4 linked regions of the Homo sapiens genome follow. The protein of the gene in region 4 purifies or fractionates together with the protein of the main gene of each other region. This does not show direct contact. Each region holds a gene or a part of one and is shown on either strand. Other genes may lie near its edges. The genes, in order: ANAPC1, DAAM1, CSNK1G1 and CIMAP3.

The links.
Region 1: the proteins of CIMAP3 (region 4) and ANAPC1 purify together in Homo sapiens (affinity purification with mass spectrometry; 3 studies listed by BioGRID and IntAct, with this or other methods). This does not show direct contact.
Region 2: the proteins of CIMAP3 (region 4) and DAAM1 purify together in Homo sapiens (affinity purification with mass spectrometry; 3 studies listed by BioGRID and IntAct, with this or other methods). This does not show direct contact.
Region 3: the proteins of CIMAP3 (region 4) and CSNK1G1 purify together in Homo sapiens (affinity purification with mass spectrometry; 2 studies listed by BioGRID and IntAct, with this or other methods). This does not show direct contact.

What each region holds. Positions count from the first base shown.
Region 1 is NC_000002.12:111,860,186-111,867,217, reverse strand, and holds part of ANAPC1 (anaphase-promoting complex subunit 1), read left to right. Parts: intron 1-2,266; coding exon 2,267-2,412; intron 2,413-3,322; coding exon 3,323-3,543; intron 3,544-4,619; coding exon 4,620-4,829; intron 4,830-7,032. UniProt on the Homo sapiens protein: Component of the anaphase promoting complex/cyclosome (APC/C), a cell cycle-regulated E3 ubiquitin ligase that controls progression through mitosis and the G1 phase of the cell cycle.
Region 2 is NC_000014.9:59,317,664-59,324,695, forward strand, and holds part of DAAM1 (disheveled-associated activator of morphogenesis 1), read left to right. Parts: intron 1-2,826; coding exon 2,827-2,921; intron 2,922-5,228; coding exon 5,229-5,562; intron 5,563-6,464; coding exon 6,465-6,575; intron 6,576-6,687; coding exon 6,688-6,791; intron 6,792-7,032. UniProt on the Homo sapiens protein: Binds to disheveled (Dvl) and Rho, and mediates Wnt-induced Dvl-Rho complex formation. May play a role as a scaffolding protein to recruit Rho-GDP and Rho-GEF, thereby enhancing Rho-GTP formation. Can direct nucleation and elongation of new actin filaments.
Region 3 is NC_000015.10:64,353,145-64,360,643, forward strand, and holds the start of CSNK1G1 (casein kinase I isoform gamma-1), read right to left. Parts: upstream 3,030-7,499; 5' UTR 2,844-3,029; intron 1-2,843.
Region 4 is NC_000001.11:111,342,053-111,349,621, reverse strand, and holds the start of CIMAP3 (ciliary microtubule-associated protein 3), read right to left. Parts: upstream 3,001-7,569; 5' UTR 2,970-3,000; coding exon 2,951-2,969; intron 2,713-2,950; coding exon 2,573-2,712; intron 1,949-2,572; coding exon 1,850-1,948; intron 1,107-1,849; coding exon 976-1,106; intron 1-975. UniProt on the Homo sapiens protein: During primary cilia disassembly, involved in cilia disassembly. Required specifically to control cilia retraction as well as the liberation and duplication of the basal body/centrosome.

The sequences.
Region 1 (7,032 bases), on a different chromosome or scaffold from region 4:
CCTGGGTTCAAGCGATTATCTTGCTTCAGCCTCCCAAGTAGCTGGGATTACAGGCATGTGCCACCACACTCAGCTAATTTTGTATTTTTAGTAGAGACGTAGTTTCACCATGTTGGTCAGGCTGGTCTTGAACTCCTGACCTCAGGTGATCCACCCACCTCGGCCTCCCAAAGTGCTGGGATTACATCGTGAGCCACCGCACCCAACATAAGAATGGTTTTTACCTTTTAAAGGGTTGTAGGAAATAACAAAGATTATGTGATAGAGTCAGTATGTGGACAGCAAACTGCCCTATTTAGTCTTTGATCTTTTACAGAAAAAGTTCAAATTTTATGTTGTTACTAATTGCAGACAACCCGAATAAACATACTAGAGCCTGGGATTAAATGGCACGCAGCCTTTTTTTTTTTTTTTTTTAAGTACAATTTCCATTTTATTTTTTCTCTGGAGAATAGTCTGTTTTTAGTCGTTTTATTTTCATTTTTTTTTTTTTTGAGACGGAGTCTCGCTTTGTTACCCAGGCTGCAGTGCAATGGCACGATCTCGGCTCACTGCAGCCTCTGCCTCCCAGGTTCAAGCGATTCTCCTGTCTCAGCCTCCCTAGTAGCTGGGATTAGGGGTGTGCCATCACGCCCAGCTAATTTTTTGTATTTTAGTAGAGATGGGGTTTCACCCTGTTGCCCAGGCTGATCTCGAACTCCTGAGCTCAGGCAATCCACCCACCTCGGCCTCCCAAAGTGCTAGGATTACAGACATGAGCCACCACGCCTGGCCTTGTCTTCAGTGTTGAAGGACTCAGCTCCTTACATGGGCTTTGGTGGGTGTGTTTGGTCCTTGTGGGCTTTACAAGGTGGATTCCTGACGACTTTTCTGTGAATTGCACATCTCACACAGTAATTTAGCTTCACATACAGCTTGGGAAGCACATAGGCATTGAAGACACTCGCTTCACAAATGTCCCTGACTGCTGCGGCCTCCACCACATTTCGAATGATGAATTTTTTTTTTTTTTTTGAGACAGAGTCTCGCTCTGTTGCCCAGGCTGGAGTGCAGTGGCGGGATCTGGGCTCACTGCAAGCTCCACCTTCCAGGTTCACATCATTCTCCTCCCTCAGCCTCCCGAGTAGCTGGGACTACAGGGGCCCGCCACCATGACCCGCTAATTTTTTTTATTTTAGTAGAGACGGGGTTTCACTGTGTTAGTCAGGATGGTCTCGATCTCCTGACCTCGTGAGCCGCCTGACTCAGCCTCCCAAAGTGCTGGGATTACAGGCGTTAGCCACCTGCCCAGCCTCGAATGATGAAATTTCTTAATGGCCTTGTCCTTGGGCACACGTCGGGCACAGTTTGTGCAACGAATAGGCTGCATGTGGCTGTGCCCCTTTTTGGCATGATTGTTGTTCCTTCTTTTCTTTGTCATCTTGGAGGCACGGACTGGAGGGAGGAGTGTAGCCATTATTGATCATATTTTTGACTAATATTTAGTGAACTAGAAGTTGCTTATTTGTGATGTCAAGTAGGATACAAATAACACAGTATGATTATAATTTTGTAAAAATGTATAAAGTGTGTATATATGTATGAAAAAAACCAAAAATTCTCTAATGTATTAATAGTAGATATTTTGAGATGGTGGCATGATTTTTATTTATAAAGTATTTCTTATGATTATAGAATCATATTTTAAAATTTTTCAGTATTTTAACTGAGTGGGAAACATTTCCTGTCAAATAAGGATATGGAGACCAGTCCATGGTACTTTAGATTAAAAGCTGAACTCACTGGGAAAAACCTTATTTTGCATGTGTAACTAGTAAAGCAGAAACAACAGTGTACTGTTCGGCACTGTCTGAATAGTAATTATAGAGTACAGCTTTCATACAGAAAAACAGAACCAATAAGGAAGTCAAACTTGGCAGAATAGTTGAGTGCAATTTATAAATAAGTCAGTTGAAGAAATCATCGACCTTTTACCTGTGGCTGATTCGTGTAATGGTGAGAGTCAGCACAAATCTTAACATTTAGCAACAGCATGTATGTGAAGCTAAAACTTGTAATGCTCTCATCTTTAATGTATTTTAAGGAAGTTGATGCCTAAAGTAAATTTATTAAAAATTCAGAGTTAATTATTTAAGATAGTAATAAATTTTGTGCTCTCTTTGGCTTGGTTGTTCTTTATCTTTAACAATTTTAAGAGCTCTGTTCATAAATATCAGTCTTGTAAAGCCCATTGTTCTATACCTGATTTTTCTATTTTATTTTTAAGGTCTTTTTGGTTCATCACGGGTGCAATATGTTGTAGATCATGCAATGAAAATTGTTTTCCTCAATACTGACCCCTCTATTGTAATGACTTATGATGCTGTTCAAAATGTGCATTCTGTGTGGACTCTCCGGAGAGTCAAATCAGAGGTAAGGAGAAAGGCAAGTCACTTCTCCTTAATAGGAAAGGGTAGGCTGGGTGCACTGGCTCACACCTGTAATCCTAGCATTTTGGGAGGCCAAGGCAGGCGGATCACTTGAGGTCAGGACGTTCAAGACCAGCCTGGCCAACATGGTGAAACCCCATCTATACCAAAAATATAAAAAATTAGCCAGGTGTGGTGGCTTCTGTAATCCTATCTACTCGGGAGGCTGAGGCAGGAGAATCACTTGAACCTGGGAGGTGTAGGTTGCCGTGAGCCAAGATCATGCCACTGCACTCCAGCCTGGGTCACAGAATGAGACTCCATCTCAAAAAAAAAAAAAAAAAAAGTATATATATATATGAAAGAGTAGTTAATACTTCATACCCTCACTTTTTTTTTTTTTTTTTGGAAAAATCACTTGTGAATAGTTTTATTATCATCATCATCATCATCATCATCATCATCATCATCATCATCATCTCTAGAGACAGGGCCTCACTCTGTCACCCAGGCTGAAGTATAATGGCACAATTACAGTTCACTGCAGCCTTGAACTCCTGGGCTCAAGTGATCCTCCTGCCTCAGCCTTCCGAATAGCTAGGACTACAAATGTGTACCACCACTCCCAGCTAATTTTTAATTTTTTGTAGAGATGGGATCTTGCTATGTTGCCCAGGCTGGTCTTGAATTCCTTGGCTCAAGCTATCCTCTCTCCTCACCCTCCCAAAGTGCTGGGATTATAGATGTAAGCCACGGCACCTGGCCTCATTTGAGAAATAGATTGAGCTTCTTAGGAAAGAAGAAATACTGTGTCTTTAGTAACTGACTTCAACTTGCATTCTTACAAGGAAATTGCTACTTTATTCTAATTATTGTTTTTTTTTTTTTCCTCTTTCTCTTTATTTTGACTTAAGGAAGAGAATGTTGTTTTAAAGTTCTCTGAACAGGGGGGAACCCCACAGAATGTGGCCACTAGCAGCTCCCTCACAGCACATCTCAGAAGCCTCTCCAAAGGAGATTCCCCTGTGACTTCACCTTTCCAGAATTACTCCTCCATTCACAGCCAGAGTCGCTCAACCTCATCACCCAGTCTACATTCTCGCTCACCTTCTATTTCCAACATGGCAGCTCTAAGGTATAAGGGTTTCCTGGTTTTTCTTTCTAAGCTTTCTGTTTTGTTTTGAAGGATTTAGAATTTCTGTTGACAGCTGTTTTTAGGGGAAATATATTTAGGGGAGATGTTTTTTAGGGGAAATAGCCATTATCCCAATTGAGCCTTTTTTTTTTTTTTTTTTTTTGAGACGGAGTCTTGCTGTGTCACCCAGGCTGGTGTGCAGTGGCGCAATCTTGACTCACTGCAAACTCTGCCTCCCGGGTTCATGCCATTCTCCTGCCTCAGCCTCCAGCTGGGACTACAGGCGCCTGCCACCATGCCTGGCTGAGTTTTTTTTTTTTTTGTATTTTTAGTAGAGATGGGGTTTCACCGTGTTAGCCAGGATGGTCTCGATCTCCTGACCTTGTGATCTGCCTGCCTTGGCCTCCCAAAGTGCGGGGATTACAGGCGTGAGCCACCGTGCTCAGCCCTGAGCCACTTTTACTAAGATTTCTAAGTTTACCATGTCACATTCTTTCCTGAGTCATATTTTGAAGCTGCCTATGCTTGACCTAAGGTTAGTTGCCTCATTTCTACCACTATGTGGGCAACAGTTTGATGAATATTAATTCCCAAAATACTGTGGCACTATTTTATTTTTGCCTTAATTTATGTTAGTTTTTCTTTTTTTTTTACTTGTTATTTGATATGTAAATGTATCTATTTCTCTATATAGATATATATTTAAATGACCAGATATGTATATCTGGTGCTACAGGGACATTGTTTTGTTGATAAATATATATGTCTGACTATACAGGGACATAGTTTAGAGCTTTTTGAATAATCATTCATTTTCCGAAAAAGAAGATGATCTAAGTTTTAGTTGTAAAAGATGAGTTCTTCTAATAATAATTCTAAATCTTTAGAATATAGTAAAGCACATTGACATGAACCATTTAAATAGCTACTCCTTTTTGAAAAATTTTAATTTCTGACCTGGATTATGCCATGAATGCTCTTCTGTCTGTGGAATTTTTGGAAGTGTCATTGGAGTGTGTGTCATATAAGCCTGCCTTGCTAACTGTGATGTACTCTCTCCTCTGTTTATTTTGCAGTCGTGCTCATTCTCCTGCGTTAGGAGTGCACTCTTTTTCAGGGGTGCAAAGGTTCAACATTTCAAGCCATAATCAGTCTCCAAAGAGACATAGTATTTCTCATTCTCCAAATAGTAATTCTAATGGCTCCTTTCTTGCACCAGAAACGGAGCCAATTGTTCCTGAACTGTGTATTGACCATTTGTGGACAGAAACGATTACTAATATAAGGTTTGTTATATATATTATTATATTCAAAGAAAAATGTTGCTGAAAGTCTTGGGAAATATATGGCATTTTGTTTAAAGTTTCCTTTTAATGTGATCAGTTATTAATATATGTAAAAATATATAGAGATATGTATTAAGGCCACCTCAGTTTCAGTAGAGGATATTAATGATATTAAAGTGATCATAGGCTGGACGTGGTGGTTCATGCCTGTAATCCCAGCACTTTGGGAGGCTGAAGCTGGTAGATCACTTGAGCCTAGGAGTTCGAGACCAGCCTGGCCAACATTGTGAAACCCTGTCTCTACTAAAAATACAAAAATTAACTGGGTGTGGTGGTGCATACTTGTAATCCCAGCTACTCAGGTGGCTGAGGCAGAATTGCTTGAACCCAGGAGGCTGAGCTTGCAGTGAGCTGAGATCGTGCCACTGCACTCCAGCCTGGGTGACAGAGTGAGACTATCTCAAAAAAAAAAAGTCATCATAAAAATATTATTTTGTCATCTGATATTTCTTCCTTTATAGTAATAATCTCTCATTTTTCGGGTGTTTTTTGTTCTGGGGAGAAACAGTTAATTTCCATCCGTGAGGAAATGTGGGGTTTTAGCACGTTTCCTAAGTTTTATGTTCATGTTAGTTGAGTGCCAGCTTTACTTTTTGGGAAACATAGCTTAGATCTCTGTTCTGGGTGACCTTTCTTCTTTTATATTCTCTTTAATAATTCACGTGTTAATTTATATGCCAATGTGTGTGCTAGTTAACAGTCTAATAAGTCACTGTCCCTGTCCTCAAAAGAGGCAGATAGCTGAAGGATGGTGACACAGGAGGGACTACTTTTGCTGGTAGGGCTTTGAAAGACGAATAGGTATTCGCTAGGCAGGGAAGTTGAGAAAGACCACAGACGGCAGCTGGGATCAGAACAAAAGTTCTGGTGAGTGCGTGGTGTATTTAGGGAATTACAAGTACTTCCACTCTGGTTTTTGCAGAGGGGAGGGAAAAGGCTAATGAAGAGGAGGCTTCCTAGGCGCAGTGGCTCACACCTGTAATCACTCACTTTGGGAGGCTGAGGCAGATGGATCACTTGAGCTCAGGAGTTCAAGACCAACCTGCCCAAAATGGTGAAACCCCATGTCTACTACAAATACAAAAATTAGCCAGGCATGATGGCGTGCATCTGTAGTCCCAGCTACTCTGGAGGCTGAGGTGAGAGAGTCATTTGAACCTGGGAGTTGGAGGTTGCAGTGAGCCAAGAGCACACTACTGCACTCCAGCTTGGGCAACAGAGTGAGACTGTCTGAAAAAGAAAAAAAGGAGGCTTGAGAGATTACTGATTGCCCTTTAGGCCTCTGGTATGTTTGATGACAGCGGTAAGAAGGCACTTTATAAGTGTGTCGGAAGTTTGGGAAAGAGCAGAACAATAAATGTGGAATTGTCAGCTTATAGGTGGTGATTGAGGTAAGAGAATTAGATTAGAATTGAAGAATTATTGTATTCAATAATTGTGTGTACATGTAGTATATAGGCCTTTTCCCAAGGAGAGGGTTTTAACATTCCTTAGATTCTCAAAGGGATTTGTGGCCTCCAAATAGTTAAAATCCAGTGGTGTAGAATGAGAAGAGGGCTAGGAACTGAAGTCCTGGAAACTTAAGATTTGGGGAATGGAAAGAGACAAAGCTGGCACAGAGAGACAAAGCAAAAGAGGTCAGATGGGAGAAGCAGCAGGAAATACAGAATACAAAAAAGAACATTTCAAGAATACAGAGATGCCAGTATTGCCAGGTACTGGTGAAGTGTGGCCCTGAGAGTTGAACCCAGAGAGGAGGTACCTGGGTGGCAGTGGGTTCCTTGGTGACCTTGGCCAGAGCATTTTAAGCTGGGAGGGTGGCGGGGGAAAGTGGGGTAGAAAAAGTAAATGGGGACTGAGGAAATGAACATAGGCATACAGACTCTTTAAGGAGTTTGCCTTTGAATAGGAATGAAGATACAAAATTAGAGGGAGTCTTGGTCAAGGAGAGTTTTGTTTTTGCTGAACTATAATAAAATTAGTTTTCATGACATCTTGCCCCAGTATTTTCTTTTTCTTTTTTTTTGAAACAGGGTCTCACTCTGTCACCCAGGTTGGAGTACAGTGAGTGACTCAATCACAGCTCACTGCAGCCTTGGCCTTCTGGGCTCAGGTGATTCCCCAACCTCAGCCTCCCAGATAG
Region 2 (7,032 bases), on a different chromosome or scaffold from region 4:
GCGGTCCCACCAGCATCCTATGCTGTAAGTGCTATTTATAGATAAGGAGTCTGAGACTCCAGAAAGGTTACCTTGCCCAAGGTTATCTAATTAGGAGGTGGTCATCTAATTGGGAATTTAAATGTATCCGTCTAAGCCCAAAGACTCCTTTCCAATTTGCCTCTCACTAATTCAGTTTTTGAAACCCTGTGGCATGTGAAAGAGCCCTGGTTATCCCACCTTCTCCCCACCCCCAGGCCTAGCAAGCCTGACTTTTCTGAGATGGGATAGGCTTCTGTTTTCTTTAATGTCTTAAGAGTCTGATAAACAGTCCAGGTGGAGAACTGCAGCACTTACTAGTCTGTGAAGCCAGCCTTTTTGGAACAAGTTCAATTACTTTATGTAAGCCTCATTACAAGAATGCTTTGTTCTTTAAAGGACCCCTGAGTGATCTGTTGGCTTTTAAAGAGTGAAAAATAGTATAATAAAGAGTGTGGCCTAACATCTAGAAGGACCTGGGCTTTCTTTATATGTGGTTTCTCCATGCTTTCTCAAGGAGGAAGACTGTGAGGTGAAGTTCAGTATGCTTAGTGGACTGGCTTATTGATTTCCCACCAAAGAAACGATTCAAACGGGAGCTAAGTTCCAGACTCCCAGCAGGAATGACCTCTGGGCCACATTTGTGCCTCTCTGTCAGACCCGCGTGTTCCAATGTACACCTTAGCAGCTTTGACAGAAAGACCCTCTGCAAGGATGCGCTTTGTCCTTTGCCTGCTTCTCATGTGAGCAGGTATTTAGTAAGTGCATAGAGCATTCAAAGAAGCCTCCACAAGGCCTGTGCATACTAGATATTTGGCATAGTAATCATCTTCAGAAATCTAGGCATCTCCCTTATCTACTAAAAGTTGCAAATTAAACCTTCTTCCTAAATGTGAGGCTTGAAAGCTTTAAACTTTGTAGAAATTATTTTATTTTGAAAAGTCACATTTAGAACATCAAGTTCAGCTACATATCCTCAGTTATCTCAGCACGATAAATATAATCTCAGAACCAAATCTGAAAAATCACACATAGAAAATGTTGTAGTCTTTTCTGTTTTGAAAGGTTATGTTCCTTACACAGTATTGGGAAAGGAATTTCCAACTTAATTTTCTTTGACATTTCATAAATCTCCCAACTCTAGTATGGAGAAACTTAATATAGACTGCTGCTATTCAAATGTGCCACCCTCTCCAGGATTTTTAAAAGGATAAATACATGCAGTTTTATTTGTACTAGTGACCCGCAGTAAAATGTGTAGTCATTAATTTGGGGATAGTTTTGTGTCATTAAGCTTAGGAACAAGGAATGATCTTCATAAAAGGCTGGATTCTGAGCTACAGATTCAAAGTGATTGCATAAGAGTCCAAACGAGTTCAGCTATGTCATTGGAGATTAAACGTTCTTGGCTGGATTTGTGTGAGTTTTCCAGGGGATGGGTCTCAGGGAGCTTTGGGAGAATTCATTGGCTGTCTCTGCACCCAGCTTCCTTACTCACCATCCCCTGGTGACAGCTGTCTGTGAGCATCACCAGCAAGAGGACAACTTTGCAGAAACAATAACAAGATTTTAAAGACCGAAAAAACTACTGGGTTTTATTTCAGTTGCCATAAATGATACTGATGTATTATATTTATTTTGCTTTGATCTTTACCCTTCTCATTATGAAATCATATTTAGCTTTTAGTTAACATTAGTTACTTAATGCTGATACTATTGATTGTCACTCTTGATGAGTTATGGTCCTGAAAGAAAGGCTGAGACTGGGTCATTGAGACCCATGGATATGAGTCAAGCTTTTCTTTTTCAATACAGTCACCCCAATCTGTTTCTCAGCCAAGCATTTCTATCAGAATTTGTAATAGGTAAAAAGATTAAACTAGACAAGCGTGTGTTCAGAATAGGATGAAGAAAAGGGACCAGGAGCTCCATGGATGGAGGATCCTGGAGTCATAAGACTTGGGGTACTTTAGTGCAACCAGGTGATCACAGAGTGAAAGGGAATGGAAAGGTCTAGACACCTTACTGGCATTCTCAATTTTATAATAACAACTGCAATCTTACATGGAACCTTGCTTCTGCGGCATCAGCATTGCCTAGAAATTTGTCAGGAATGCAACATCTCAGACCTCACCCCAGACATACCAAACCAGGCTCCATAGTTTAACACTATCCTCAGGTGATTTTCATATCCATATTAAAGTTTGAGAAGCACTGCTCTAGCAGATCCCTGGGTAGAAACACACACACACACACACACACACTCACTCCATATCCTGATTTCTAAATGATGTTGAATAATTTCTAGAAGTTACGCATTTACTCTGAAGGAATTGTCTATCCTAGTAATAGCTCCAAATTAATTTTTCCTCTTAAAAAATAATTAGATGTAACAAAATCCCTTTGGTCTTGATTACACTTTTTGGCTGAGGAATAGGAATGGTAGCATAGGAGGACTGCTGCCCACCTCCTGTTTTTGATAATGTGATGGTATTATTATCTTTAATTGCCAGAATGTTGTATTCAACTACAGGTTCAGTCTTATTTCTATCAAATACAAGTAGTAGTATCTACATCAAAGTGTAATTATAGAATAGTTATACAAGCATTTGGGCAACGTCATCTCTACGAAGATTTCTAAACTTTTCCCTAAGGCTTTATTTAAAATTTGAAAGACTTAACTTACTTAATCATAGATTTGTTGTTTATATTTAAAGTGATAGTGACAAATAATCTGTAGGTTTGTCTTGTTTGTACTGTAATTAAAAAATAGAATTTGAAGAAGTAACTTCTGTTTTCTTTGCATAGAGAAAATCTCTGCTGGCTTTAGAGAAGGAAGAAGAAGAAGAAAGAAGTAAAACTATAGAGAGTTTAAAGACAGCACTGAGGACAAAACCAATGAGGTAATTTTCCCCTGGATGGCATGTTTTTTTTTTTTCTCTCCTTCCTTCCTTTTTTTGCAATAGTCAAACCTTCTAGGAAGTCTTAAGTTAAAACCATAAAATTAAACCATAACATACTTTAATCATTAACATTTAATAAAGTTATTTTCTTCTGTGAAAAGGTATGTAGGCAGCCACTAGGATGGCTAAAAAAAAACAAAACAGAGAGAGACTTTAACAATGGTAAGTTAGTAGACAAGAATGTAGAAAAATTGGGACCCTCATTCATTGCTGCTAGGAATGTAAAATTGTGAAGCCACTTTGGAAAAGGGTTTTAACAGTTTCTCAGAATGTTAAATATAGTGTTGCCATATGACTCAATAATTCTGCTCCTCGGAATGTAGCCAAGGGAAATGAAGACATGTCTCCCAAAAACATGTATGCAGATGTTCATATCGGCATTATTCATGATAGCCAAGAAGTGAAAATAACCCGTATATTGATCAGCTGATGAATGGATAAATGAAATGTTATATATCCACATAATGGAATATAATTTGGCTACAAAAAAAAGGAATGAAGTACTGATACATGCTACAACATGAAATGACCTTGAAATATGCTAAGTGGGAGAAGCCAGTAACAAAGGAGACCACACACTGTATGATTCTATTTATAAGAAATTCCCAGAATAGGCCAATCCATAGAAACAGAAAGTAGATTAGTGGTTGCCAGGAGCTGAGGAAGTGGGGAAAATGTTCTCTTTGGGTGATTAAACTGTTCTAAAATTAGCTAGTGTTGTTGGTCACACAGCTCTGTGAATATACTAAAAGCTACTGAATTGTACACTTTAAAAGGGTGAATTTTATGGCATGTGAATTATTTCTCAATACAAGTATTACTTTTCTTTAAAGATGGGTACACTTTCTGGCAACAGTGATTCATTTCCTCTCTGATAATCAGCTTCTATGTTGTGCCTCCTGCACTTTCATTCCTTTAATGCCTCTAGGATTTGCTGAGATGCTGAGGTTCTTATAAGTACATTACATGAGCACAGGTGCTATGAATGAAGCCAACTGGTTTAACGAGCTTGGCTACATCTGGGTCATGTGGTTGGGTGAAAAGCCTAGAAAATAAAGATTCCCTTTCTTTATTTGACTATAAAATGCAAACTAAGAAAAGTCTGACTCATGAAAAATACTGTGTAGTTATATGACAGAGATCTAGACTATCCTAACTGTATCAGCATTTCTCTCAATATGTTCTGCACTCTCAGATGTTAATCGATATCCAAGCCTAAATAAGTTTGGAAAATTTATCACATAAACAGGTTATGTTACTTCTGAACTTTTCGGTGGCTTTAATATGTACATGTGCATTGTGAGTTAGTCTCATTGATTAACTTAAGTGTAAGAAATATTAATAACGTTAGTATGCAACAATAAAGTATTGCTTTATTATTGTATTCAGTGTACATGGAATATTGAGATTCCATGTAGCATGTCATATAAGAGAAGAATTTTGTCACAAAACCTTAGGGATGTAGATTATCATTTGTTCAACAAGCAAATATCCTGGAATTTAAGGAAGCTTTTGACTTTCATTGATAGGGTGTTTGGGTCAGTGATCAGCACTTAAAAGTGCGTCAGCAATCAACATATAAAAGCGCATGGGCCAGACATGGTCACTCACTATCCCAGCTACTTGGGAGGCTGAGACAGGAGGTTTGCTTGAGGCCACAAGTTCAAGACCAGTCTGGGCAACATAGCAAGTCTCCACCTCTTAAAAAAAAAAGTTAAAAAGAAAAAATTGACTGGGAATGGTGGCACGCACCTGTAGTCCCGGCTACTTGGGAGGCTGGGGTGGAAGGATCACTTGAGCCCAAGAGTTCAAGGCTGCAGTGAGCTATGACAGAGCAAGACCCTGTCTCTCTTAAAGAAAAAAAAAAAAAGGATTGGGGTGGGGGCATGGGAACTGTATGCTAAATAACACAGGAACAGCAGATGGTTTTAATCTAAGACAAGATATGTATTCCGAGTATTCTCTTGCTTCTAATTTTTTATGAATATATGATCTGTTGTTTGGTTCTTTGTACCCATTGAGATATGTTTATCACAAATGGAGGGGTTTTTTTTCACACTTTTGGTTAGAACTGACTATTGGGTCTGTGCCAAGGAAGAGGCAAAGAATTAAAAAGACTTCATCAATGTAAGCCTTTTGGCACTTTAGGAACTAAATCTTTCTTTCCCCTGCCCTCTAGACTTTTCTGTTAGGGGCTATTATAAAACCCAAAGGCACTTAAGCATGGTGCATTTCTCTTCATGACAGGTTTGTAACCAGATTCATCGACTTGGATGGCCTATCATGTATCCTCAACTTTCTAAAGACCATGGACTACGAGACCTCAGAGTCTCGAATACATACTTCTCTCATTGGCTGTATAAAGGCGTTAATGAACAACTCTCAAGGCCGGGCTCACGTCCTGGCTCATTCTGAGAGTATTAATGTAATTGCTCAGAGTCTGAGCACAGAGAACATTAAAACGAAGGTGGCCGTGCTGGAAATCTTGGGCGCCGTGTGCCTGGTTCCCGGGGGCCACAAGAAGGTTCTGCAGGCCATGCTGCACTACCAGAAGTATGCCAGCGAAAGGACCCGCTTTCAGGTGGGTGTTCGCTCAGCCTTCTTCACTCACCCCTTCTTTAAAGTCTGCTCAAACACGTGCTTTTCCTGTCCCTGAAAGGGGAATGTTACTTGAGATGTCCTCTTGTGGTGATTACTCACAGTGTGACTTTAAACATTCCCTTCTTCTTAGGTTTAAGAACCAGAGAATAGAGTATACTTTCAATAGTTGATGAATCTGGGCCTTTAGATTTGCAGAACTTGAAAATGTGGTCTTGCATCCTATATGTCATATAGCACACATCTTTTGAACCCACCAAACTGGGTGTTCCCTGAAAATTTTACAGCTTGCCATTCTTGAATTAGGATCAATATTAATAATTTTTCATATTTCACTATATTACTTGGATGTAAAAAGCAAGCAGAGATAATGAAGCAAAGGCTTTTGTATACATGTATGTATGATGTAAGAATTTTGAAATTAGAGTTTTTAGGACTGTTCTTAAGGAGAAAAAGGGTGGCTTTCTATGGGTCAGTGTAATCCTGTCTAAACGTAAGATTTTAAAAGTTAACTTTTTGGTGGCTCACACCTCTAATCCCAGCACTTTGGGAGGCTGAGGCAGGCGGATCGCAAGGTCAGGAGATCGAGACTGTCCTGGCTAACACAGTGAAACCCCGTCTCTACTAAAAATACAAAAAATTAGCTGGGTGTGATGGTGGGCGCCTGTAGTCCCAGCTACTCGGGAGGCTGAGGCAAGAGAATGGCGTGAACCCGGGAGGTGGAGGTTGCCGTGAGCTGAGATCATGCCACCGCACTCCAGCCTGGGCAACAGAGCAAGACTCCGTCTGAAAAAAAAAAAAAGTTAACTTTTGAGTATAAAAAAATTCATAAAATGAGCATAAGGTTAGTAACGTTTCAGTCCTTTGTTTTTCTATTTTTGATAGACATTAATTAACGACTTGGATAAAAGCACTGGGCGGTATCGAGATGAAGTGAGTCTCAAGACTGCCATCATGTCCTTCATTAATGCAGTGCTCAGCCAAGGTGCAGGAGTGGTAAGAACCTTCTACAAATTAAAAATATATTAGTAAATAATAATTTATAAAAAGTGATTATTATGTAGTCTAAAAACCACAAATATGTATTTTATTGCCATTTTACTTTCAGGAGAGTTTGGACTTTAGACTTCATCTTCGCTATGAATTTCTGATGTTAGGAATTCAACCTGTAATAGATAAATTAAGGGAACACGAAAATTCAACATTAGATAGGTAAGTCAGACTATTATGATGTGAGAAAGTTTCTGTGTTTCCCATCTGTGTAATGCAATACCTCATCAAGTGCTGGCCTGTGGTTACTTGTGCCCTGTCTGTAACATAAAGAGCTTGTATCAGAATGTTAGTTCAGCTAATGATGTTTTCATAGTAAGACTTTGTTGATGAGGGAAGCAGCACATTATGTAGAGAACTTAATGTGGGTTTTAGCATTAGACCTGAATTCATATCCTATCCT
Region 3 (7,499 bases), on a different chromosome or scaffold from region 4:
AAAAAAGGTCAAACTGAATTGCAAACTTTGTATTCTCACAAACATCTATTATTACAGGAAGTTATTTGATTTTTGTCCTCTGAGTATAAATTACATTTGAAAATAACTAACTATAAGTCACCTCAAAAAGCAAACTACGTTAGCTGAAAATCTGACATATAATAGGTGACACATAACTATATTATTTTAAATCCACAAAACAAATGAGTATAAAGACTTTGGCCGGGTACGGTGGCTCATGCCTGTAATCCCAGCACTTTGGGAGGCTGAGGCGGGTGGATCACGAGGTCAGGAGATAGACACCATCCTGGCTAACATGATGACACTTCGTCTCTACTAAAAATACAAAAAAATTAGCTGGATGTGGTGGCATGTGCCTGTAATCCCAGCTACTCAGGAGGCTGAGGCAGGAGAATTGCTTGAACCTGGGAGGTGGAGGTTTCAGTGAGCCGAGATCGTGCCACCACACTCCAGCCTGGGTGACAGAGTGAGACTCCATTTCAAAAAAAAAAAAAAAAAAGAAAGAAAAAGACTTCATGGGCTGGGTGAGGTGGCTCACACCTGTAATCTCAACACTTTGGGAGGGCGACGCAGGAGGTTTGCTTGAACCCAGGAGTTTGAGGCTGCAGTGAGTATAATTGCCCCAGTGCATTCATTCTGGCCTAAGTGACAGAGAAAGACCTTGTCACTAAAAATAAATAAAAAACAGACTTCATGTTTCTTGGATTTATTTCTATATCGTAATAAGGAATGATTTAAAGGCAGAAATGTATTCGATTTTGTTTTCTGAATATTATATAAGTTTTTCTAGTAGCATAAATCTAACTGAGATGAGAGGTGCTGCTGATGCTGCTGATTTTTATCTTAAAATTACAAGTAGGCCGGGCACGGTGGCTCACACCTGTAATCCCAGCACTTTGGGAGACCAAGGCGGATGGATTACAAGGTCAGGAGTTCAAGACCAACCTGACCAACATGGTAAAACCCTCTCTCTACTAAAAATACAAAAAATTAGCTGGGTGTAGTGGCAGGCGCCTGTGATCCCAGCTACTCAGGAGGCTGAGGCAGGAGAATCGCTTGAATCCTGGAGGTAGAGGTTGCACTGAGCCGAGATCGTGCCACTGCACTCCAGCCTGGGTGATAGAGCAAGACTCTGTCTCAAACAAACAAACAAACAAACAAAAAACAAGTACCTTCTATTTTACACCCCAATTTTAATTCTCTTTAAAGAGACATGTGATGTTAAGATTTACATACATTACTTTTTCATGTATTTCGTGTTAATCCATACTATAAACACCAATATGGTGTAGCTGAGAAAAATCTATAAAATATATTTTGCTCATTTCAATAAATGGGCCATATTCTACTTTATTATTTTGAATTTTAAGAAACTACTGATAACTGAATTTCATGCTACCTACGATCAATTTCGAGAAGACACTGAAAGTCCTATTGTATGCATTTTTTTTTCAAAATTATCCGGTTGCTTTCCTATCTCAAACCTCGTTTCACAAAACTGGGCTGCCTTGACTGTGTATGATTAATGGTAATAATTTATCTTCTAATTCAAAGGTGGTTCCGTTTAAAATGGGATGTTACTTATAATACAGGTAAGAATTTTAACTCATACTACTTATGAAGAAACAAAAGCTCTGGTAGGTTCCATGACTTGCCCAAGGTCAGTAACTAGCAACTGGCATAGTCTAGGTTCAACCCAAGATTTATCTGCCTGAAAGTCAATACTTCCACTTGACCGCAATTATCTCCTTAAAAGATTAAGACACAGGCTCAACAGCAGAACATTCATTCTCTCTCTGAAAATTCACATATCTGTTCTGAGACATCACTACACAGCACCTAGTATTCAGTCACTGATTGAAACAAAAATGAAGAGGATCTTTCTACTTCATTTAAATTAGGACAGGTTTACTGGCAGGTAAGAAAGAGGCTGCAAAAGCCTTGCCTCAACATGTCTTGCCTAGACCTGTGATACATCTATATGGTTTCCCCAGTCCATTCTTTTTAAATAAACACGTACATCTACTACACAAGACTACACCTGGACTAGCCTATTGTTAAATGCTTTTCAGAATTCCACTTTTCTAAGGTAATTTATACCGGAATTAATATCGAGCTGGGAGACTTGGTTGAATATGTCATTCAGGCACTTTCCAAACATCTTAAGTGTCATTTAGGGGCAACAAACCCAGTTCCACTCTCTTTTACATTGTGATGCCTGCCCACTTGGGGGACATTGCTCCTGTAGGACGTGGGGGCGAGGAAACAGTAAAGGAAGAAGTGGGGGAAGCGTACGGAAGTTGGGTAGAGGAAAGTCTCATTACCCACTCTTGTGCCCTAAGCTCCGCCAAGGGCGGCTCCCCGCGGTACCCAGTCGACTCAGAACCCCCACAACCTTCGAAGTCCAGCTCTGTCCCAGCGGGGTGGGTAGGGAAAGAGGGCAATGGAAGCACGGGATAGCCCCAGTCACCCTGACGAGATCTGTGCCCTCCTTTTGGCTCCCGGGGGATGCTCCCCCTTTCAGAGTAAGCCCTCCAGGTGGCAAACTCCCGGTCCACACCGGCTAGAGTCAGTTTCTCGGAAGGGGCGCCTCCTCCGCCTACCTCTACCCCGCTAACCGAAACTCTCCACCCGCTGTGTCCCTCAGCCCCTCCATTCCGCCCCCGCAACCCTCCACAGACACAAACGCCAGCCTGCGCCCCACCCGGGATCACGGCGTCCCCCACCCACGCCCAGGAAAGGGCCCCCCACCAACCCCCTCAGACACACACACACCCCCTCAGACTTCAGCCTACAGAACCCCGACGAAGCCGGGCAGATACCTGGTCCAGCAGTGCTGCAAGGCGCAAATGAGGCGGGCGCGGTCCCCTCCCCGAGGCGCCAAGTGCTTCTCTACCCACCCGCAGCGGTGGTTTCTCTCTTTCCCAGGAGCGGGAGGGAGGGGAGAAGGCGGACGGGAGGGGGAAGGCGAGGAGCCGAGGGGCGGCTGGAGCCGAACCGGAACCACTAGCGCGGCCCCGCCCTCGTCCCGGAGTCGCAGAGTACCCTGGCGGGCCTAATAGGACAAACTTTGGGCAGGCAGCGTTAAACTGACACCATCACTTCCGGGTTATCCCCACGGCTGCCCCCTCCTTAGCAACCGCGTGGGGTTGCTAAGCGGAAGTGCCTTCAAAGCAACCCACCCCCATTTCTTCTGGGACTACCAGAAGATATATCGGGAGCACTGAGCTCTGCTTTGGCAACACGCTCTTACCTTCTGCTCAAGATCTTAGACCAAGTACACGCTTCGCTGCCAGAGGCACGAAACCCATCCCGCTTTTCCCTTCAACTGTACTCCTCCACCAAGCCCCCGTCTCTATATACTCCTGCTCCCTCCCACCCTTAATCCCGTGGCTGACCCAGTGGCTGTTCCTAAGGCTCCAGGCTCCTCTCTCAGGTCCCTCGAGGGAATTATTTTCTGACGGTTTAGCAAGCATCTCCCTCTTGTGGATTTTTAATTGTGTTTCAACCAGATTTTTAAAATTTCTTTCAATGTTGTGAAAGGTTTTTCATGCACTTAGTTCTCCTGTGACAGCCCATGAAGCCGAATGGTTAGAAAAATGTTGTCTTCACCTACATTTTGTAAGAGCTGCACATGTTTGTGTAAGGTCTGGAATTAACCTAGCCAAATGGAATAGGCAAAAAAGATTCAATGTAACTCGACAGTTATTTTAATCCTTAAAACAGAGAGCAGGGCACATGTTCTCAGGACCTCTTGAGACTGCGCCTCGGGGGCGGGGTGGTGGTGGAAAAAAGACAGAAAACAAAGAAAAAGGCTAAAGGGAGCCCATAATCAAATTTGGGAAGGAAGAAGACTGTCTAATCCTCCACTCAAAACTCAAAATATGCCGGGTGCGGTGGCTCACACCTGTAATCCCAACACTTTGGGAAGCCGAGACTGGCGGATCACGAGGTCAGGAGATGGAGACCATCCTGGCCAACATGGTGAAACTCCGTCTCTACTAAAAATACAAAAATTGGCCGGGCGCGGTGGCTCGCGCCTGTAGTCCTCCTGTAAGCACTTTGGGAGGCCGAGGCGGGCAGATCACGAGGTCAGGAGATGGAGACCATCCTGGCCAACATGGTGAAACCCCGTCTCTACTAAAATACAAAAAATTGGCTGGGGGTGGTGGCACGTGCCTGTAGTCCCAGTTACACGGGAGGCTGAAGCAGGGGAATTGCTTGAACCCGGGAGGCGGAGATTGCAGTGAGCCGAGATCGTGCCATTGCACTCCAATGGCACTCCAGCCTGATGACAGAGCGAGACTCCGTCTCAAAAATAATAATAAATAAATAAACAAACAAACAAAAATTAGCTGGGCGTGGTGGCGTGTGCCTGTAGTCCCAGCTACTCGGGAGACTGAGGCAGGAGAATCGCGGGAACCCGGGAGGCGGAGGTTGCAGTGAGCCGAGACCGCGCCACTGCCCTGCAGCATGGAGACAGAGCTAGACTCCGTCTAAAAAAAAAAAAAAAAACCTTCAAAATAAACTTTCATACCGACACTATGGATAAGAAAAGAGACCTCATTTATTGTGTCTGGGTGATTTGGGGTTTGAAAATATTGGGAAAATGAATGGTTGGGGTAAAAGTTAACAAAGTAATACTCGAAAAAAACAACTCGTATCTGGAGGCTGGGTGCGGTGGCTCACGCCTGTAATCTCAGCACTTTGGGAAGCCGAGGCCTGAGGATCACCTGAGGTAAGGAGTTCGAGACCAGCCTGGCCAAACTGGTGAAACCCTGTCTCTATTAAAAATAGAAAAATTAGCTGGGCGTGGTGGTGGGCACCTGTGATCCCACCTACTCGGGAGGCTGAGGCATGAGAATCATTTGAACCCAGAAGGCAGACGTTGCAGTGAGCCGAGATTGCGCCATTGCACTCCAGCCTGGGCAACAGAGCGAGACTCCGTTTCAGAAAAAAGAAAAAAAAAAAAAAAAGGAAAAGAACCCATATCGTTATGGCAGGTAAAATATTCAGAGAAATGCAGTTGGGCATTCAGAGAAAAATGAGTAAAAATCTTCATTTGGTTTTCCTATCTTAAATAGGTCTTCTTACAAGCAGAATGCTTAACAGTAGCTCCTAAATTTGTTTTCTATTCCATGGCAGTGAATATACTTGCCACGGCAGGCTCTAATTTTATTGGTCATGATAACCTCTTTATAGACACCAAAATTGAACTGTTATCCACCTTAACTGGGGCAGAGAGGAAATGAGCTTTGGTCACTTAAACGAAACACCACGTCTATTGGTTTCCTGTATGCATGAGACAGGGTTAAATTGATTCACCATAGGCAATCACTTCAGCAAAACCTTTAGGAAATCACTTCAAACTCAAATGGGTCAATAGGATGTTTAATACATCTCCACCTCTGCCATTGACATGAATACATGTGGGAGTATATACACATGCACAATTCAAATGGAATTTCAGCTCATCCACTAATTGTTCCTTTAAAAACCTGGGCGGGATGCAGTGGCTCACACATGTAACCCCAGCACTTTGGGAGGCCAAGGAGGGTGGGTCATCTGAGGTCAGAAGTTTGAGACCAGCCTGGCCAACATGGAGAAACCCCATCTCTACCAAAAATCAAAAAAAAAAAAAAAAAATTAGCCGGGCATGGTGGCAGATGCCTGTAATCCCAGCTACTCGGGAGGCTGAGGCAGGAGAATCGCTTGAACCCAGGAGGCTGAGGTTGCAGTGAGCCAAGATCGTGCCATTGCACTCCAGCCTGAGACAGAGCAAGACTCCGTCTCCAAGAAAAAAAAAAAAAACCTGGCTGAAAGTGACAAGTGGTAAACATGTTACCCTGACAAAACAGAGCTTGGTATTTCAATTGCCAAACAGGTTTAAATATCAAAAAACTTTGAAATAGTAAATAAAATGAGCTCAATGAACAACAATATATCTAAAACTATGATAGACTAGGATGTTTCAAAAAATTAAAACATGATTATGGTAAATAATAAATGTGTTCTATAGAAAGAAATGTTTTATTAAGAAAATCAAGTTATGATTAAATGTGATAGCGTAAGCCAATGTAGAAATGCAAATTCCTATGCATCACTCATTTTACCCACTGCCTGAAGAAAAATGATTTATAAGCAGCATTTGTTTACATCCTCTCTTCCTACAGCTTTTTTAAAAACTCCAGGCACTTTTGTATAGGTGTATGAATAACTGGCTTGACTCCTAATTCATCACATGTCCTCTATTCTATTATTTTCAACATACTCATTGCTTTGAGATCTCTAAAGATAGATAGTACAAACCCCACCTAAAATTAGGTATGTGAGTTTAACTACACTTTTGTAATTTTTGTGGGGAATCCATAGTCTCTCTCTTTTTTTTTTTTCTTTTTAGACAGGGTCTCACTCTGTCACCCAGGCTGGAGTGCAGGCACAATCTTGGCTCACTGCAGCCTTCACCTCGTAGGCTCAAGCGATCCTTCTACCTCAGCCTCCCAAATAGCTGGCACTACAGGCATGCAGTGTGCAGCCACACCCAGCTAATTTTTGTATTTTCTGTAGAGATGGGATCTCACTATGTTGCCCAGGCTGGTCTTGAACTCCTGAGCTTAAGCAATCCGCTTGCCTCAGCCTCCCAAAGTGCCGGGATTATAGCTGTGAACCACCACACCTGGCTAATTTTTGTATTTTTTGTAGAGAAGGGGGTCTCATTCTGTTGCCCAGGCTGGTCTTGAACTCTTGGAGGCCTCAGCCTCCCAAAGTGCTGGGATTACAGGTGTGAACTACCACACCCGGCCATGAATCCATATTCTTTTTTTTTTTTTTTGAGACGGAGTCTCGCTCTGTTGCCCAGGCTGGAGTGCAGTGGCGCGATGTAGGCTCACTGCAAGCTCCGCCTCCTGGGTTCACGCCATTCTCCTGCCTCAGCCTCCCGAGTAGCTGGGACTACAGGTGCCCACCACTACGCCCGGCTAATTTTTTGTATTTTTAGTAGAGATGGGGTTTCACCTTGTTAGCCAGGATGGTCTCGATCTCCTGACCTCGTGATCCGCCCGCCTCAGACTCCCAAAGTGCTGGGATTACAAGCGTGAGCCACCGCGCCCAGCCCATGAATCCATATACTTAATATGAACTATAAGGCAGTGCTCTCAGATCTGGGCCAGATCTCAAATAGCCCTCATTAAGTCAGTACAGTACCTTCATCCTACAGATCAATATGGGACTTCCAAACTTTTCTCCCACTCTCTTGAGCTGTCTTCATTTTTTTTATTGCCCTTGGTAATCATTTAAAAACTTAACATATCTAATGTATATTGGGGAAACCCAATATGCTGTAACTCAATTATTAATATTTAAATACTACTACAGGAATTAATATTTAAATATTGTTAGAGTTACATTGGCATCTTCAAACATAAAATACCAGAACTAGGCCAGGCAGAGTGGCTCATGCCTGTAATCCCAACACTTTG
Region 4 (7,569 bases):
TGTGGACTCTTTACTGTCAGGAAATAATGGACTGGACTTGGGGGTCAAGACTCAATGCTTCTACTTCCTTAATGCAACTTGAGAAAGTTACATCACTCTGTGATCCTTGGATTTCTCATCAATAAAAGAAAGTCCTTGATCTTTTGCCCTACAAGTCTATACATTCTGAATAGCTTCCTAAAGCATTGAGAATAAGCCTGTTGGCCTGCAAGGCCTATGTGCTCCAGCATGCCCTCCATTTCTGTCTCATTTCCTACTTGCTCACTACACTCTAGCCATGGCAGCATGCCTTTTTGTTCACGTCAAATTCCTTCCCAATTTATAGCCTTTGCACTTGCTGTTCCTTCTGCTGGGAATGCTCGGTCCCCAGATCTTCACAGGGCTGGCTCAGTCTTGTCATTTAGATCTCAGGTTAACTGTCATTTCTTCAACCCTTTCTAAAGTAGACTCCAGGCCATCACTCCCTATCACATTGTCATCCTGTTTTACCTTCTTTGTAGCCTGGACAACCTACTTCCTGGTTTGTCCATGACAGTCCCTACCTTATGGGTACTGTCTTGGTAGAATTATTAATAGGCCCCCTTTTACTCTCAGAAGTGTCATCGTTTGACTAACAAATTATATGGTCACTCTATCACTATTGATATTTTCTTGTGTATTTGCCTGTGCTCTGTCTGGACTCTAGAATGTAAGCCCCAAGAAATCAGGAGCCTTGTGTGATGGATTTAGTGCAAAAATCTATCGAACCTACAAAACTACCTGGCATGTTAATAAAAATTCATTGAATGAGTAACTATGATTCTACATTCTACAATGCCAGAAATCTGTGAGACAATTGATTAAATCTCTGAATGGTTCCTTATTTAACTGCGATGGTTTGGATGTCATCCCTTCTTTATGTGCTTCTTTTATTACGTACTTCTTTTCCTCCTATTGCTTTTTTTGTTGAAGTGCACCAAAAGGGAGGAGACATACCTGGGATAGTAAGTGTCCTTTGGGTAGTTCTTAAATCGAGGCACCAAGACATTAAATGGAGCAAAATTTTGTTTGTGTTTTTCCTGCTGAGGACTTACTTTCTGGTACCTGCCTGCATGAGGTGTCATTTCCTGTTTCCAAGAAAAAGATCATTATGTTACAGAGTGATATGTATATATATACACATAAAGCCTTCCAGGTAGAAAAAACAGAATCATCCTCTTTCTGTTCATAAATCAGCTATGGTTCAGCCACCTCAAGCTACAGAAATAAGTCTTCGGTAGGTAGAAAACCGAGATACGGGTGTGGTTCAGCTACCTAGTGATACGTAATATATAGGTTGTAGAAATAAATCTAGGATGGGTAGAGAACCAAGGCAACTTATCACGGCCACTATGCTTAACACCTCACTGAGAGATTTTTAGAGATAGTATCTCTGCTCCCTAAGCTCAAGTGTCAGGAAAATGTCGTCCAATAAGAGATTAGGATCCCCTACTGAACTTTAGACTTGCAACCCAATCACACAAAAGGGTGGAAAAGTTGGAATTTGTTATTTAACTGACAAGACAATATAATGTATATAAACACAAGCTTCGAATGTTTAACCTCAGGCATCTCAACACTAAAGCCCTGTGTTGGGACCATTTCTTCAGTAAATTGTTTTCCACTCTCCCCGGTACACTCACACGCATATTTGCAATGTTAATGCCCAAGCTTTTCAGATAGGCTTCTTAATAGCTTTTGCTTAAATGCCTACTTTTCTTTAATTTCAGGGCATATTCTTTTAGATCACCCCCCTCTTGCTCTCTGCCCTTTGCACTCCTGTGCAAATGCATGCAACAACGTGGATAACACTAAAATCCCAGCACATTACCTTCTGTATTGGCTTAAACCTCACAGCTGTTCTGGCTCCCAAAGTATATCCTTTTATACTGGTTGGGATCTTAGATAAGTCGTATGCCAAGCCATATCCCTTTGGGTGGTATATTAAAAAACAAACAAAAACACCAAAAAAAAAAAAAAAGAAAGAAAAAACAACGCATAGTCAGAGAACATCAGGGCCATCGAAATGGAGTGAGCTTAGTGTGTTCCCATCTGAACCTTCTCTGCAAGGGATTATTCTTTATTGTCTTGACTCCTTTGAGGTCAAGACCATAGAATTACACAAGTAATACAGGTAACTTTGTAGAGGGGTGTGGCTGGATACGTAGACTATAGGACATTGCCATATATTCAAATGCATCAGTCTTCGGAGCCCCACAGAGCTGAACTTACTCTAATGCAACTGTCAGCCTGAGGTTTGGAGGAATGGGAGGGTAACTGGCACTGGCTCAGAGGCCTTTGGAAGTGAGGAAGGAGTAGGGATTTTATGAAGCTAGGGCTTGCGTTTAATGGAGGTGCAAGGCGGGGAGCAATAATCCTTTAATCTCTGGCATTGGCTGAAACAGCTGCTTGCAGAAGAACAGAGCGCTTTCTTATGCTGGGACTCTGGAGATCTCAAGTCCCACAGAATTTTTTCTTTTACGAAACTTGGAAACTTGGCTATCCCTCAATAGCCGGGGAACTGAGGAGCATCTAAGGGGAGGTGAATACTCACATCTGAAAAATAACACCCAGGCCCTCTGTGGGGTGATCCCCTAAGAGGGACAAACTTGTTCCCAATCAAATTCGGGGGATGGAAGTGAGGAAAAAGTTTCCTCTGTTGACATGTTCCAAAAGGGTAGTTATCCGCAGCGTCTAAAATAAAGAGGAGAGGCTCCACGTGAGGGACGGCACCTGGGTCTACGTGAGCGCGTTCCGGGAGGGGAAGGTCGGGGAGACTGAGCAGAGGACAGGGCCCAACCGTGCGCTTACAAAACCACGCCAAACTCCTGGAGGGGGGCGAACTGCACTTCCTCCCACTTCGTCTTTCCCAGCTTCCCCACCCTTCCCCCTACCTGCCCTCTACTCTAGGCTTCTCGGCAGCCCTCCTCACCTGCTCTGCTGAAGCACATCGCGAGCTGCTAGGGCTAGCACTTGTGTACTGCGTTGCCAAGGAAACGAAGGCTAGTCCCGTGATTCCCAGCTGCGGAGCGCGGGGAGGGGGAGAGGGCCCGAGCGCGCCTGCGCGGCAAGTTGGGGCGTCCACCGAGCCACTACTGGGGCAGGAACCCGCACCTTGGAGCCCAAAGCCCAGGGGATTGTAAACTCAGTAGCTGGGCTGCGGGTAGAGGGTTTCCTGGATTCGCGGCTGTAGGGGCTGCAGGGTTGACGGGGCGGCAAATAGCTTTGGAAGCTGGGCCAAGAGGAATGCGCTGTTGTAGAGGGAAGGACAGTGAGGTTCAGAATGTCCCGAAGTCTGGGCCACCAGCAAGTAAGGTGAAAGTAGAAAGACAGCCGCTGCAGCGTACCGGGGTGGACTCCCTGGGCAACGCCCCAGCAGAGGAGTAGGGGGCGGAGTTGAGCTGACAGCTAGTTCCATATTAGGCCCTTAGACCATTTTTCCTTTTCCTCAAGCCCCTCCAATCAGGTTGCCCATTCTATCCCGGGGGGCCGTGGGGAGGGGGCGCGAGGTTTTAAAAGAACTGGAGGCCTTGCGTGGACCGGGTAGAATGCCACGGAATCAGAGAAGACTCTAATAGTTTTTTTTTTAGAAGTTGGGGCAGTCAAATTTCTAAGCCCCAGTTTTCTCATCTCTAAATTGGGAATAAAAATTCCTCTATATAGGATTGTTGAGAGGATCAAGATGACGGGATTAAAACAGTTCAGAACGTGGTACTTGGTGGGTGACATACGACAGGTTATTATCACTGAAGATAATAATAACCGAAGAAAAAAAGATCAGAGTGTGTTTTGTCTTTTTTGCCTTTGTCATGGATATTAACACTAGCTTGTTTTCACTCGATTTTTAGGATGGCTTTAGGAGTTGTCCAGGTGTTAGAGGTTAACAGAACACCCAGTGTGACTGGTCCATACTTTGACCCTTTACAGGTGATGACCCTGGAATCCACACATACTCCGCGTTAGGACAGCCTTCAGGGATGATTTTTATAGATCTAAGGTAGACTTTCCAAAAAAGGTGACAGTGACTCCCAGAGGGTGTTTTGGAAATTTGTGGAAGAATTTTTGCTTGTTAAAAATTGTTGGGGTGTTGTTCCTGGTCAACAGGCTAGGGAGGCTAGACATCCTACACTGCATTGCCCAGGCATACAGTGAGTTGTCCCATGTCCCACATGACATTCAAATATGTCCTGTTGGACTCTACAAAAATAATTAGTAGTAGTTATATACATTAACATTGTGAAGAAATTTATAGGAAATAATGCAGAAAGCCCAGTAATATAAAAGGTTGTTATGAGGAGCCAAGCTTAAATGGAATAAAGATAGGGTCTGAAAATTATTGTATAATTTACTCCAAGCATTTTGTCTACTTAAAATACAATTGCAATAATACTGATAGTAAATAAAATGTAAAGAAATGCAATCACCCATTACTTAGTGATGAGGATGTTTTCTAAGAAATGTGTCATTAGGCAACTTTGTTTTGCGAACGTCATAGACTATATTTAACACAAACCTAGATGGTATAGCCTACTACACACCTAGGCTTATAGTATGGCCTCTTACTCCTAGGCTACAAACCTGTACAGCACATTACCATATTGAATACTGTAGACAATTGTAACATGATATTAAGTATTTATGTATCTAAACTTACCTAAACATAGAAAAGGAACAGTAAAACTATGGTTTAAAATTAAAAATGGTACACCTGTATAGGGCTGCTCCATTGTAATTTTAGGGAGCCACCATTGTATATACAGTTCATCATTGATCAAAATGTCTTCATGTGGTGTATGACTGTATTGGTATGGATTTGATGATTTTTACTTCCATTAATAATTTAGGTAATATTAACATTTGTAGGTATTAATGTGCTTTTTGAAAATAATGTTTACATTATTTGTGACATGAAATGTATTTCGCAAAGTTTCTTGAAAATGTGGTAATCCATTCTTACTTTGGTAGACTGGTTTGCTTCAGACTAATTCTCCAGCTGAGAACAGGTGAATTGAATAAGTAAAATATATATGTTTGAAGATATCAAAGATATACCCAGAAAGAAAGAACATTCAGAACCAAAATCTCAGAGAGAAGAGAAGCCCAAAGTGGTGAGTTCAACCTTGGTGCTGCTGTTCCATTGGAACGCTTGCTAAATAAAAAGCTGGCTAAGAAGCAGAAGATTTGAGCAGAACTTTGGTTAGACAGCCTCTGAGAACTCGGAAACAAGATTTAGGTTGGCCATGGAGAAGGGGAAACTGGAAAACACAGTTTGAAGTTTAAGTCAGAACTTCAAAGAGATAAACCCTAGGAATAAGGGTAAACAAGAAATAGACCAGCTGTCAAAAAACCCTGAAGTTCAGCTTTACACCAATTCAGTTCCCAATTGCATTAAAGTGATCCACTTCTATCCTTATTGCATGTAATAAACAAAAGTAAGTATTTTCTGAAGATATCATCCAGAGACTCAACTAATTTTTACATTTTTTTCATGCAAAATGTTTGGCATTTGATATAAAACAAGAGCTTATAATAAAAGAGTAGAAACAGACCCACAGAAAAATCCAGATATCAGAGTCATTAAACATGGACTTTAAAATAACCATACTTGGTTTGAGATTTTGGAGAAAGCAACAGGACTGCAAGGTGAACATAGGGAAGCGAAAGAAAGCAAGGAAATAACATAAAGCAAATGCTTGACTTCTTAGGTAAGAGCCTAAAAGAAAAAGATCAGACTCTAAAAACAAAGTCAATAAAGATCCCAGTATACTCAAGGAAAGAGAAATTTCCCATCAATCTCTGTTCATATTGCCAATGTGATCAACATAACTTAACTGGGCCCATCTACATCCTGAGTGATGCAAAATTTATCAACTTTTCAGTAAAGCCAGACCGAACATCGTATAGTCAAAGACAGACTGTCTATATGTCATGTGTATCTCCTGTATAACCATCTGTGTAATGATAATAGGCTAATGCAGAATTTCAGGTAGCTCTAAGAATTGCCAAAAGGCCAGTTTTTGAATGATGACCATGCACAAAGGAACTCATGCAGGTGTCTGCTAGTACCAGGGAGTACTTAGACAAAGTTTTATAGTGTAGCCAGTTTTGATGAAGACCTTAAGAATTCAGTAGTTTCCATCATGCACATTTTATAGTATCAAGAGGATGCCAGATGTTTATGGAGACTGTTATAGCTTTATGAGACAGTTAATGGCTTTTCTCACTTGACTGTCTCTGAGGACATATAAGAATTATTATTATTCCAGGGAATTACTTGCTCTGTTGCAATGGTCTAATTTAATGAGGATAAGTAGATTCAATTTTTTGTATAATGTTTTAAATAGATTTGTCTCATTTTAAAATTATTGAATTAAATAATAATCAATTCAACACAGAGGAAAAGCTGATTACCATATTTAAGAAATTAAATGACAAGATGAATTTAGAAACAGTAAATGAATCAAATAAAATTGTAGAAGTAAAAAGTATTGTTGCTGAAAATAATAATTCAATGTATGGGTTTAACAGCAGATTAGAAAAGCTGAAAAAAGTGAATGAATGGACTTCCAGTTCCAAAATAGCAGCATAGAAGCAAACTGGCTTCACCCTTTGCCTTCTCTAGAAAACCAAAACCAGATATACAGCACTGGGATTATCACCAACAATATCCCAGAATTCAAATATGAAAACAGTTGCCAGGGCCACGAGAAGTGAAAAAATTCCAAGCAGACGGTAAGAGAATTGGACTTCCACATCTGTGGCACCTCTCCTGCCATTCTGCCCAGAACAAGCATGTGGAAAATTTTCCTCCAGTTCAGTTTCTACATTGGAAAAAGTGATACTGAGATGGACAACCAGTTTTCCCACTATCTTGGGTTTCCTTGCAGAAGATCTGCCCCTGCCTTAACCCACAGGAAGCATCACAGTGCCTGGGGGGAGAAATATACCTGAAAACAGGCAGAGGCAAAGGGAGGAGGCAGGATTACCTAACCAGCCCTGAAAACTCTGTAACTCAGCTAAAGGAGATGCCAAATCAGAGTGGCTGTTCAGCAGTGCAAAGCTGTAGGAAGTTCATCCCACAGGTCTCCTGGGCACAAACCCCTAGCTGGCCTTCTCACACTAAGAATTTATCTCAACAAGGGATATCTCAACAAGGGGTTCCACTTTTGGCTCCAAGGCTGATGCTCTTGCTAGGTCTCAGTTTGTGGAAAGAGAAAGGGACCAGGAAGGCAAGGCCTGAAAGTTGGACACATCATTTCCACTCATGTACAGAACTTAGACATGGCCACCTGGATACGGTATTCTTAGCTGGCAGTTTTTTTCTTTCAGCACTTTGAAAATGTCATTACACTTACTCCTAGCCTGTATAGTTTCCATTGAGGAATCTGTTGCTGGATGAATTGGGGATCCTTATATGTTATTTGCTTCTTTTCTCTTGCCGCTTTTAGGATCGTCTCTTTCTCCTTGACCTTTGAGAGTTTATTCCTTGGGGTAGTCTTATTTGAGTCATATCTATTTAATGTTGTCAGACCTTACTGTACATAGGTGTTT